2 separate regions of the Homo sapiens genome follow, and region 2 is linked to region 1. Evidence: fine-mapped expression QTL. A gene starts in region 1. The other region holds a variant in brackets. All regions are shown on one strand. Distances are from middle to middle.

Region 1 (5,527 bases):
CAGTACCAGTTAATGACCAGGTCCAGTGGCCACTCTAGCAAACACTGAATCAGAACAAAAAGCTATGGAGACAGATGCCAGGACCTAAGTTCCAATACTTTTCTGGAGTTGATAAACTTTACCCACAGATTGAGAGAAAATAACACATCATGACCACCTTGAGCTGTGTATCCCAAGAAGACAAGCTTTCCAGAAGGGGGCACTTAAGTATCATTATGCCGCATTAATATTTATTTTTTATTACTATCTTTTTGGGATGGAGTCTTGCTCTGTTGCCTAGGCTGGAGTGCAGTGGCGTGGTCTCGGCTCACCACAACCTCCGCCTCCGGGTTCAAGCGATTCTCCCGCCTCAGCCTCCTGAGTAGCTGGGATTACAGGCATGCGCCACCACACCCAGCTACTTTTTTTTTGTATTTTCAGTAGAGACAGGGTTTTGCTATGTTGTCCTGGCTGGTCTTGAACTCCTGGCCTCAAGTGATCCACCTGCCTCAGCCTCCTGGAAGTGCTGGGATTACAAGCATGAGCCACCACGCCCGGCCTGCGTTAATATTTAAAAACCTGGATAAAGTAAGAAATAGCTTTATTGATATGGAGAAAATAAATTTTAATGAAGGAGCTACCCTGTATAACAGATATAGAAATTCCTTTTCATCTGCAATCTACTTATCAAAAATGTGCCCTTCTTTAAACCTGATTCTTGACCTCTTTTCACTTTTTTTTTTTGAGACAGAGCCTCCCTCTGTCGCCCAGGCTGCAGTGCAGTGGCGCAATCTTGGCTCACTGCAAGTCCACCTCCAGGTTTCAAGCGATTCTCCTGCCTCAGTCTCCCCAGTAGCTGGGACTAGAGGCGCCCACCACTGTGTCTGGCCCTCTTTTCACTTCTCTTCCTTTGCAGGATAATGTAACTGCCACCTCCTTATTCCTTAAATCAGCTTAGGTTTTACAAAACTAATCATTCCTTTTTTCACCTCACTCTAATTTGATAGTCCCTCCAGATAATCCTGCCAGCTACCATTTGTTGATGGCCTGATGCCTTAGATACCTTATCTCACAGCTCCACAGCTCAGGAACAGGGACAGAGAAAGTGGGCCAGGCGTGCCAAGGTCGGCAAAGTGAAGCTGGGATTGAAAGCCAGCCCACCTACAGATTCCAAAGTCTCTGTAGGCCCATCCCCACGCAGCCCCTCCCACCCGAGACCGGCTACCTTTCTAAACTTTGTTCAACTTCCCAAACGACTTCGGTCATTCTACTGTCATCGTCTTCATTCACTGCACTCTCTATGAAAATCTACCCATCGGCTCCATCAACAATGTATTTAGTAACCCTATGTAGAGTAACCTCCATCAGGCCTAGAACATGCACTGGGGAGTGCGGTGGAGGAAGAAGAGGAAGGGAGCAGGTGAGTGAAGGAAAGCCCCGGCTTCCCGCCCCTAGAGACTGCAACTGGACCCTGCACTGTGCCTCCAGGACAAGGCTACCTATCTACCTCCTCTACGACCATGTGACTTTTACAGCTTGCCTCTGGAGCACCATTTCCTTTGTGCAGCAAAATATAAAGAGTTCTTAAACAAAGGCACTCTAACCAACTGCAGGCGTTTCGTTCTTTTTTTTTTTTTTTCTTCTTGATTCGAAGTCTCACTCTGTCGCCGAGGTTGGAGTGCAGTGGGGCGATCTCGGCTCACTGCAACCTCCACCTCCAGGGTTCAAACGATTCTCTTGTCTCAGCCTCCCCAGTAGCTTGCGCCCAGGCCTGGCTAATTTTTTTGTATTTTTAGTAGAGACGGGGTTTCACCGTGTTAGTTAGGCTGGTCGAGAACTCCCGACCTCTGGTGATCCGCCCGCCTCGGCCTCCCAAAGTGTTGGGATTACAAGGCGTGAGCCACCACGGCCGGCCAACTGCAGGCGTTTCGACCTTTTTGTTTGTTTCACTCTGGCCAGGCTTGAAGTTTCTAAACTTTACCAGTAATAAGTGACAGAACGTACGCTCTTAGCAGTTGATTACTTTGCAGAAAAAAGTTATTGTGGTTTTGGCTCAAACCGACAGACAGCAGCAGGTTTCCTGGATGAAGAAGAGAGATACCGGGGTGTGCTGGCCGCCAGGAACTGGCCGCCTCCAGCTGAAGCCCGGGAGGACCCAGGGTCTTGGCCCGGGCACCCCGCGGGCCTGTTATGTTTTCATTATGACTCGGCGGAACAACCCCTCCTTTTCACTTTTCGAAGTGAGCAAACAAAAGATCCAACCCCCAACATTTCAAACGGCCAGGTGTGGGGGAACGCCAGGCCCGCGTGGGGACAGCCTTTTAAGGTTTAAACAGCCGGGGCGCCCCGAAAGCGCTCATCGCCCCGGAGGACAAAGGCGGCAGGGGCACGCCCCGGCGCCGGCGTCGCTACTCGGGACCGCCAGGAGGCGGCAGCCAGGTCCCCGAGTGTTTCTTAGACTGAAGCGCGAAACCGTCCCCACCCGCCCTGAGCGCTTCAATCCAAGAGTGCAACTTCTCCAGGCCGCCCTGCAAAGCCGAAGGAACCCGCGGCCCCACTCCGGTCCGCGCGCCCGGTCCACTAACCCTCGTTTCCCCTCCAGCCGGAGCAAGACGCAGACCTGCTCGGTGCCCAGTCGACGCCCCCTGCCTACCTGCCGGGTGCCCCCTGCGGAGCCCCGAGGCCGAGCTCATTGCAGCCAAACGCGCAGCCAGACACCTTGCCCTCCTCTTCCTGAAGCCACAGGCTCCCGGGCCCGGCCCCGCCCTCGGCCCTTCCTCGGCGGCCCCGCCCCCTGCCCCCGAGCGTGGGGCCAGTTGGTTCTGATTGCGCGCCGCCCGGGCTCCCGTGGATCGGGCTGGTCCTTCCCAGAGTTAAAGCTCCTCCCAGTCGCTCCGGAGCCCGCGGGGACCAAGAGCGCGGGGGCAGGGAGAGGTACGCGGTCTTCGCCTCCAGGCCCGCTGGGACTAACCGTGCCCTGGGGACATGCCAGTTGCCACCCGGGGGGACACACAGACCGCCTAGCCCGAGGCAATTTCACATCACTTGTGTGAGCTCGGACTCATTTAATCCCAGCTGCCCCAAACATTTGCTATTCCTTACTTTGCTATGCCTGTACTTTCTAGAGGTACAGGCATAGATTGTTTTATACCGCTTAGCAGATACTGCCTGTATTTCAACATTGGCTCGCTTTGTGTCTCTGTGTCACATTTTGGTACTCTCGCAATATTTCAAAATTTTTCATTGTTATTATGTCTGCTGTTGTGATCTGTGATCAGTAATCTTTAATATTATTGCAATTGTTTTGGGGCACCATGAACCGCGCTCATAAAGGAAGGGGAAATTAATCCATAAGCCCTGTATGTGTTTGGACTGTTCCACCGAACTTTCCCTTCTCTCTCCCCCTCCTGGGGCCTCCCTATTCCTGGAAACACAATTTTGAAATTAGGCCAACTAATAATCCTACAAAGGCCTCTAAGTGTCCAAATGAAAGGAAGAGCCTGTCACTTTAAATCAAAAGCAAACATGATTAAGTTAGTGAGGAAGTAATGTTGGTAGGCAGAAAGCTAGGCTTCTTGCTCCAGTTAGCCAAGTTGTGAGTGCAAAGGAGAAAAGCCAAGTCATGAATGCAAAGGAAAAAATTTTGAAGGAAATTAAAAATGCTACTCCAGTAAACACACAAAAGACAATAAAGCTAAACAGCCTTATTGCTGATATGGAGAAAGTTCTAGTTGGTCTGGATAGAAGATAAAAACAGCCACAACATTCCCTTAAGCCAAAGCCTAATCCAGAGCAAGGCCCTAACTCTTCAATTCTATGGAGGCTGAGAGAGGTGAGGGAATTGCAAAAGAAAAGCTGGAAGCTAGCAGAGAGGATGGTTCCTGAGGTTTAAGGAAAGAAACTATCTTCATGACATAAAAGTGCAAGGTGAAGCAGCAGGTGCTAACGTAGAAGCTGCATCAGGTTATCCAGATCTAGCTAAAATCATTGATAAAGGCAGCTACACTAAACAACAATCTTTTGTTTTTGAGACAGTCTTGCTTTGTCACCAAGGCTGGAGTACAGTGGTGCGATCTTTTGCAACCTCTGCCTCCTGGGTTCAAACGATTCTTCTGCCTCAGCCTCCCAAGTAACTGGGATTACAGGATGTGCCACCATGTCCAGGTTAATTTTGTATTTTTAGTAGAGACAGAGTTTCACCATGTTTGGCCAGGCTGGTCTTGAACTCCTGACCTTGAGCAATCTGCCCGCCTCGGTCTCCCAAAGTGCTGGGATTACAGGTGTGAGCCACCGTGCCCAGCCAAAACAACAGATCTTAAATGTATATGAAACGGCCTTCTATTGGAAGAAGATTCCATCTAAGACTTTCATAGCTAGAGAGAAGTCAATGCCTGTCTTCAAAGCTTCAAAGAACAGGCTGATGCTCTTGTTAGGGGCTAATACAACTGATGACTTTAAAGCCAACATTCCTTTACCATTCTGAAAATCCTAGTGCCCTTAAGAATTATGCTAAATATGATCTATAAATGGACCAACAAAGGCTAGTTAGTGACAGCACATCTATTTACAGCATGGCTTAGAGAATATTTAAAGCCCACTGTTGAGCTCTAGTGCTCAGAAGAAAGGTTCCTTTCAAAATATTACTCCTCATTGACAATACACCTGGTCATCCAAGAGTTCTGATAGAGATGTACAGAGACTGATGCTGTTATCGTGCTTGCTAACACAACATCCATTCTGAAGCCCAGGGATCAAGGAGAAATTTTGACTTTCAAGTCTTATTTACAAAATACATTTCATAAGGCTATAGCTGTCATCATGATTCCTCTGATAGTTCTGAGCAAAGTAAATTGAAAATCTTCTGGAAAGGATTCATCATTCGAGATGCCATTAAGAACATTTGTGATTCATGGGAGGTCAAAATATCCACTTACGGTATGTAACTAGAGACTAGAGGGGGAAAAAAAGAAAAACGAAAAATTAAAAGTACATGTATCAGCCACAGTGGCTCATGCCTGTAAACCCAGCACTTTGGGAGGCCAAGGTGGATTGCTTGAGGCCAGGAGTTTTGAGACCAGCCTAGGCAACAATGCAAGACCCTGTCTCTACAATTTTTTTTTTTTTTTAATTAGCCAAGAGTGGTGGCACATGCCTGTATTCCCAGCAACTCAGGACACTAAGATGGCAGGATTATTTGAGCCCAAGTTTGAGGCTGCAGTCAGCTGACTGTGCCACTGCACTCCAGTCTGGGTGACAGAGTAAGACACTCTTTAAAAAAAAAAAAAAAAAAAAAAAAAAAATATATATATATATATATATATATATATATAATATATATAAAATACATATATAAATATTTAAAAATTATATATATTTCAATTGGCACACTGGGTGGTATTTTACAGGCAGGACAACATACCTATCCATTTTATATATATATATATATATATATATATATATATATATATACACACACACATATACACACACACATACATTATACATAGGTATATGCATATATCTCCACATTAACAGGAGTTTGAAAGAA
Region 2 (5,000 bases), 53 kb before region 1:
GTTGAGATCAGTTCCAAAGGGATGACTGACTTAAATGCCTGGTTCTCAGAAGGGATGTAAATACAGTCTAGCTGAGAGGGAGCTGGTGAGAAATTACAGTAGGTGGAAGTTATTGTTGGCTGCTAGCCAAATATTGTATGTATGTATTCTGTTTCTGTACTGTATTAGCCAAATGCCAAACGTATTCTGTTTCTGTTCTGTTTCAGTCATTTTGTGGATTAACTACTCGTCTTGGGCTGTCCAGACCAGAAGAAGAAAAAATTTATTTTCACAGTGATGATTCATGTAGTACCTGAGACTGAAATATTAAGATAACTTTCTAGTCTGTGCTACAAAATGCAGTTTTTGTTAGGGAGATACATAGATCTAGAGGCAAGTAAGAGTTCATCAAAAGAGAGCTCCTATATAGCAGTTTGATTTTTTTTTTTTTTTTTGGTACAGAGAAGCAAAAAAAAAAAAAAAAATCATTAAAGCTTGACGCTCAGTGTGAGATTCTACAAAAGATCATGATGCACCACAGGATGTAGAACTAATGAACCCAAAGACAAGCTTCAAAGCAAAACAACTATGTAACTGAGGAGTACAAAGCAGCCTAACCCCAAAAGCACCATTTTTCTTGCCTCACACAAGAATTTCTTGTTTCTGTGGAGTACAAAAGTACGCTATATTAAGTGACACGGAAAACAACATTTAAAATGATGGAGTTTTTATTTATTTTATGCATATATTTTACCAATTTGCTTGTTCAGAATTTCTCATGCATTCTTATTCCTTGTTCGTGTTACATTTTGTTCACTACAGCTGAGTAGTGCCTTCAATGAAAGCCTATGAGTAGTTAAACCCTCAGTCTGTGTTGTTATAAATCCAACAACTTCTGTCCTTTTAACTGTTGAGTTTAATCTGTTTACATTTATTGTGATATCAGACAAATGTGGATATCTATCTACCACCTTATTCTGTGCATTCTGTTCATCCTGATTTTCCTTTGCTCATTTTCTTTCTCCTTTCTTATCTTCTCATAATTTGGCTAAATGTTTTTTTATACTCCTTTATCTCTATTGGTTTGGAAGTACACACTTTTTTTCTCTCTTCATTTAGTTTTACATCCTGTGGTGTGTAAGTTTTCTTACATCCTGTTTTCTTATGTGTTTGATTTCCTTTTTCCTGCAAAATGCTTTCAGTAAACATGTTTTAGTCGCTCAGTCTCAGTTTTGTTCAAAATGGTAGGTTATCTGACTATAGAATTCAAGGTTGATTGTTATTTCCCCTCAGAACTTTGAAGATACTCCTTTGCCTCTGCCGTCTATTAATTCACCTTATGTAAATTTAATTGCTTTCCTTTGTAGGCAATCTCTTTTTTTTTCAGGCATTATAAGAATTTTTTGTTTCTGGGGTTCTGTAGTTTCATCACATTGTGTCAGGGACAGAGTTAATTTCATTTTTCCTGCCTGGGACTCATTTATTATGATTTTTTAAAATAGAAATATGGTTTCACCCTGTTGCCCAGGCTAGTCTTGAACCCCTGGGCTCAAATAATCTTCCTGCCTCAGCCTCCCAAAGTGTTCGGATTACACGCATGAGCCACTGCGTCCAGCTAGGACTCATTATACTTCTTAAATCTAAGGACTCATCCTGAGAATCCTTAGATTTGAGAAGTGGGGCCTGATTTGGGGAATCTGAACCCAGGTGTGGTATGGAGGAGCAGCCCGGCTAACTGGATTAAATGAAAAGCAACAGATTTGGTTCATACCATTTGTTTATTCAAAACTATCATATCCCCCTATCAAGGGGGGAATGGTAGGCTCCTCAAGATGGGTTTGAGGTGAGGTGTAAACTAAAAGGAAGACCTGAGTTTTGGTGAGTCATTCTTGAAATTCAGCTCTGCATGCATGATGGGTTTGTGTAAGATTTTCAGAATTTTAATAATAACCCTCTAAAAAGGGTTGTTACAGGGTATGGTAGTTTCTCTTTTAAGCTTTACTAACATGTCTGAGGATTGTCAATATTCTTGGGGTTTCTAAATAAAAACTTGTACAGGAGTGTCTTTGCTTTAAAAAATTTTTTATTTTCAATTTCCCAAGTAACCATAGTTTCCTACTGGCATGCAAAAAAGGTTTAATATTTGACCCCTTGTTATTAATCACTTATCTTTGTATATGGTAATTTTGGTGTTGTAAACCTATTGTTTTTGAATTATTAATTTTTTTTACCCTGGCCTACCAGTCTCTCAGAATTGTGTGATTTTGAAACAGTCTCAAACATAACATAAAGAAAGTTGTAACCACAGTGGGAAGACTATTTTGTTTCTGAACTATTTGAGAATACATTGCAAACTTGATGCCAGTTCCCCTGAAACATAAGAACATTCTCCAACTTAATGACAAACAACCATCAAAATAGGAAAATTAATGTTAGTACATAACCACCATCTAATTTTTAGACCTCATTAAAATCTTGCCAATTTTTCCAATAATGTTCTTTATTGGCAGAAGTTCAGAATCACAGTTTAATTTAGTTGTCATGTCTCCTCCACTCTGGATCAGTACAACATTCTTTGACATTCATGATTTGACTCTTTTAAAGATTACAATTATTTTGTAGAATGCCTCTGTTTGGGTTTGTCTGGTATTTCCTTGTGATTTGCTTCAGATTATATAGCATCTTTGTCGGGAATATCTCAAAAGTGTCCCATGTATTCTCATTGCATGATTTCAACTCACCCCATTACTGATAATATTAATTTTGATCAATTAAGATGGTATCTGTCAGGCTTCTTCCCTTTGAAGTTATTATTTTTCCTTTGGGATTAATGCTTTTGTGTGAAGGCATTTTAAAACTGTGTAAATATCTCATTCCTTATTAAACTTTAAATTTATTCAGTTAATTATGTCAGAATACACTCATGGTTT[C/G]CTATCTCCTTCAGTGGATTATAATTTGTTACTATCATTATTTAATGCTAAAAATTGTTCCAGATTTTACCACAGGGACACCCTTTGACCTGCCTTCTGGGTTCTTTTGATAAGTCTTCCATCATCCATTGAGCACTTCCTTGCTTTCTAGTACAGCAAGATGCTCTAGGTTCATTTTGTCCTTATCCATGCCCAGCCCTAGAATAGCCATTTCTCCAAGGAGGCTTGCTTCCTCTTAGGTAAGCATAGTATCTGGTGCCAAGAGCTAGATGCTAGATGTTATTAGAAGTGCCACTGCTCATAGGCTCTCTCAGAAAGAGAATATACATATACATATATATGTCAGTATGAAAACATAAATATGTAAAATTTAAAATTTCTATACTTACATACACACGTACATTAAACATTTGCATCTTTTAAAAATTTTATATTTAATTTCATTTAATTATATTTCTTTACATTATTACACATTAAAAACCATGAATTCACACCAGTACTTCAGTCTAACACTACAGGGTTTATTCTACTCCCTTTCCATAATTGTAGTTCCATTCTTGCACAGGATAAATCTGACTTCCATTATTCTTGATATATTTTTTTCTTCTGCATGTGACAGTCTTTCATCTCCACTACCACTCCTTCCCCTGCAGAGATGGCTTTCTTACCCCAACTGGGCTCCAACATTTTTTTCTGAGCCTATTTCCCATGTGGAGGCCGTCTTCATCCCATTTGGGCTATGACACCCACACTAATTGCGCCTCCACTGTTTAGAAACCTTCCTCGCCACCCTTCTGTAGGCCAAAAGTTAAAGTTCAAGGTGTTGGCTCAGTTGGTTTCTTCTGAAGCCTTCTTGGCTTGTACATGGCTGTTTTGTAAATGGCTGTCTTCTCCCTGTGTCCTCACACCGTCTTTCTTCTGGGTGTACATGTCTGTCCAAATCACCACTTCTTGTAAAGACACCAGTTATGTCGGATTAGGGCCTATACTAATGACCTCATTTTAACTTAACCTCTTTAAAGTACAGTCACATTCTGAGGTACTAGGGGTTAAGACTTCAATATATGAATTTGCAGGGGGTGGGGCACAGTTCAGCTCATAATAGTGTTCTATTCAGCTTCCACTTGAGTTTAGTTCTCTTCTTCCTGAAGAAGTTCTTTAGCAAAAATCTGTGGAAATAAGCCATAATCTTGATTATACCTGAAAAACTCATTTCTTTCAGCCTTGCTGTAATCTCTTTTGTGCTGCTGTAACAGAACCATAGACTGGGTAATTAATAATGAACAGAAATGTATTTAGTTCACAGTTCTGGAGGCTGGAAAATCCAAGATTGAGAGGTCGCATCTGGTCAGGTTCTTCTTGCTGCATTATCCCATGGCAGAAGGTGAAAGGGCAAGAGGCGGAGAGAGAAAGCTCAATCAAACCCGCAGCCTCAGGCCCTTTTATAATTGGCATCAATCCATTTATGAAGGTGGAGCCCTCATGACCTAAGCACCTCCCATTAGATCCCACCTCCCAGCACCGTTGCATTGGGCATTAGGTTTCCAACACATGGACTCTGGGGGACACAATCAAATCACAGCAAGCCTGAAGTAATTTTCCTGAGCATAATATTCTAGGTTGGTAATTATTTTCCTTAGCATCTTGAAAACATTCCTGCATTTATTTAACGTGTATTTACTGAGCCCCTATTATGTTTCAGGCGCCATTCTAGGTGCTGGGGATACAGCAGTGAACCAGACCAAGTCCCTGCCTGCTCCTGGGGAGTATGCACTCTAGTGGGAGGAAATGAAATGGCATTTGTACAAATTGTATGAACATAAGCTTTCATTTCTCTAGGGTAAAGAGCTAGGGGTGGGATTACTGGGTCACATATAAATGTATATTTAACTTTATAAAGAACGGTCAGGCTGGGTGTGGTGGCTCACGCCTGTAATCCCAGCACTTTGGGAGGCTGAGGCGGGCGGATCGCGAGGTTAGGAGTTCAAGACCAGCCTGACCAACCTGGTAGAAACCCCGTCTCTACTAAAAATACACAAAAAATTAGCCAGGCTTGGTGGCATGCACCCGTAATCCCAGCTAGTCAGGAGG

What was found. PIP is the estimated chance that this variant, and not a neighbour inherited with it, causes the effect.
Region 2: its variant is the best candidate, but not a certain one, in a credible set for the expression of CASP6 in whole blood (TOPMed, PIP 0.65).

Annotation. Positions count from the first base shown.
Region 1 is chr4:109,700,724-109,706,250 of GRCh38, forward strand. CASP6 (caspase 6) reads right to left here and starts at 2,722. Exons shown (of 7, transcript NM_001226.4): 1 at 2,633-2,722. The coding sequence starts at 2,672. RefSeq lists enhancers at 1,324-1,383, 2,144-2,203, 3,094-3,143 and silencers at 2,384-2,493, 2,644-2,933.
Region 2 is chr4:109,648,278-109,653,277 of GRCh38, forward strand. All of the region lies in intron 1 of MCUB (mitochondrial calcium uniporter dominant negative subunit beta), which reads left to right. Among named protein-coding and RNA genes, the nearest start is that of CASP6, 53 kb to the right of the region's middle. The variant C/G (reference allele first, on the strand shown) is at 2,910.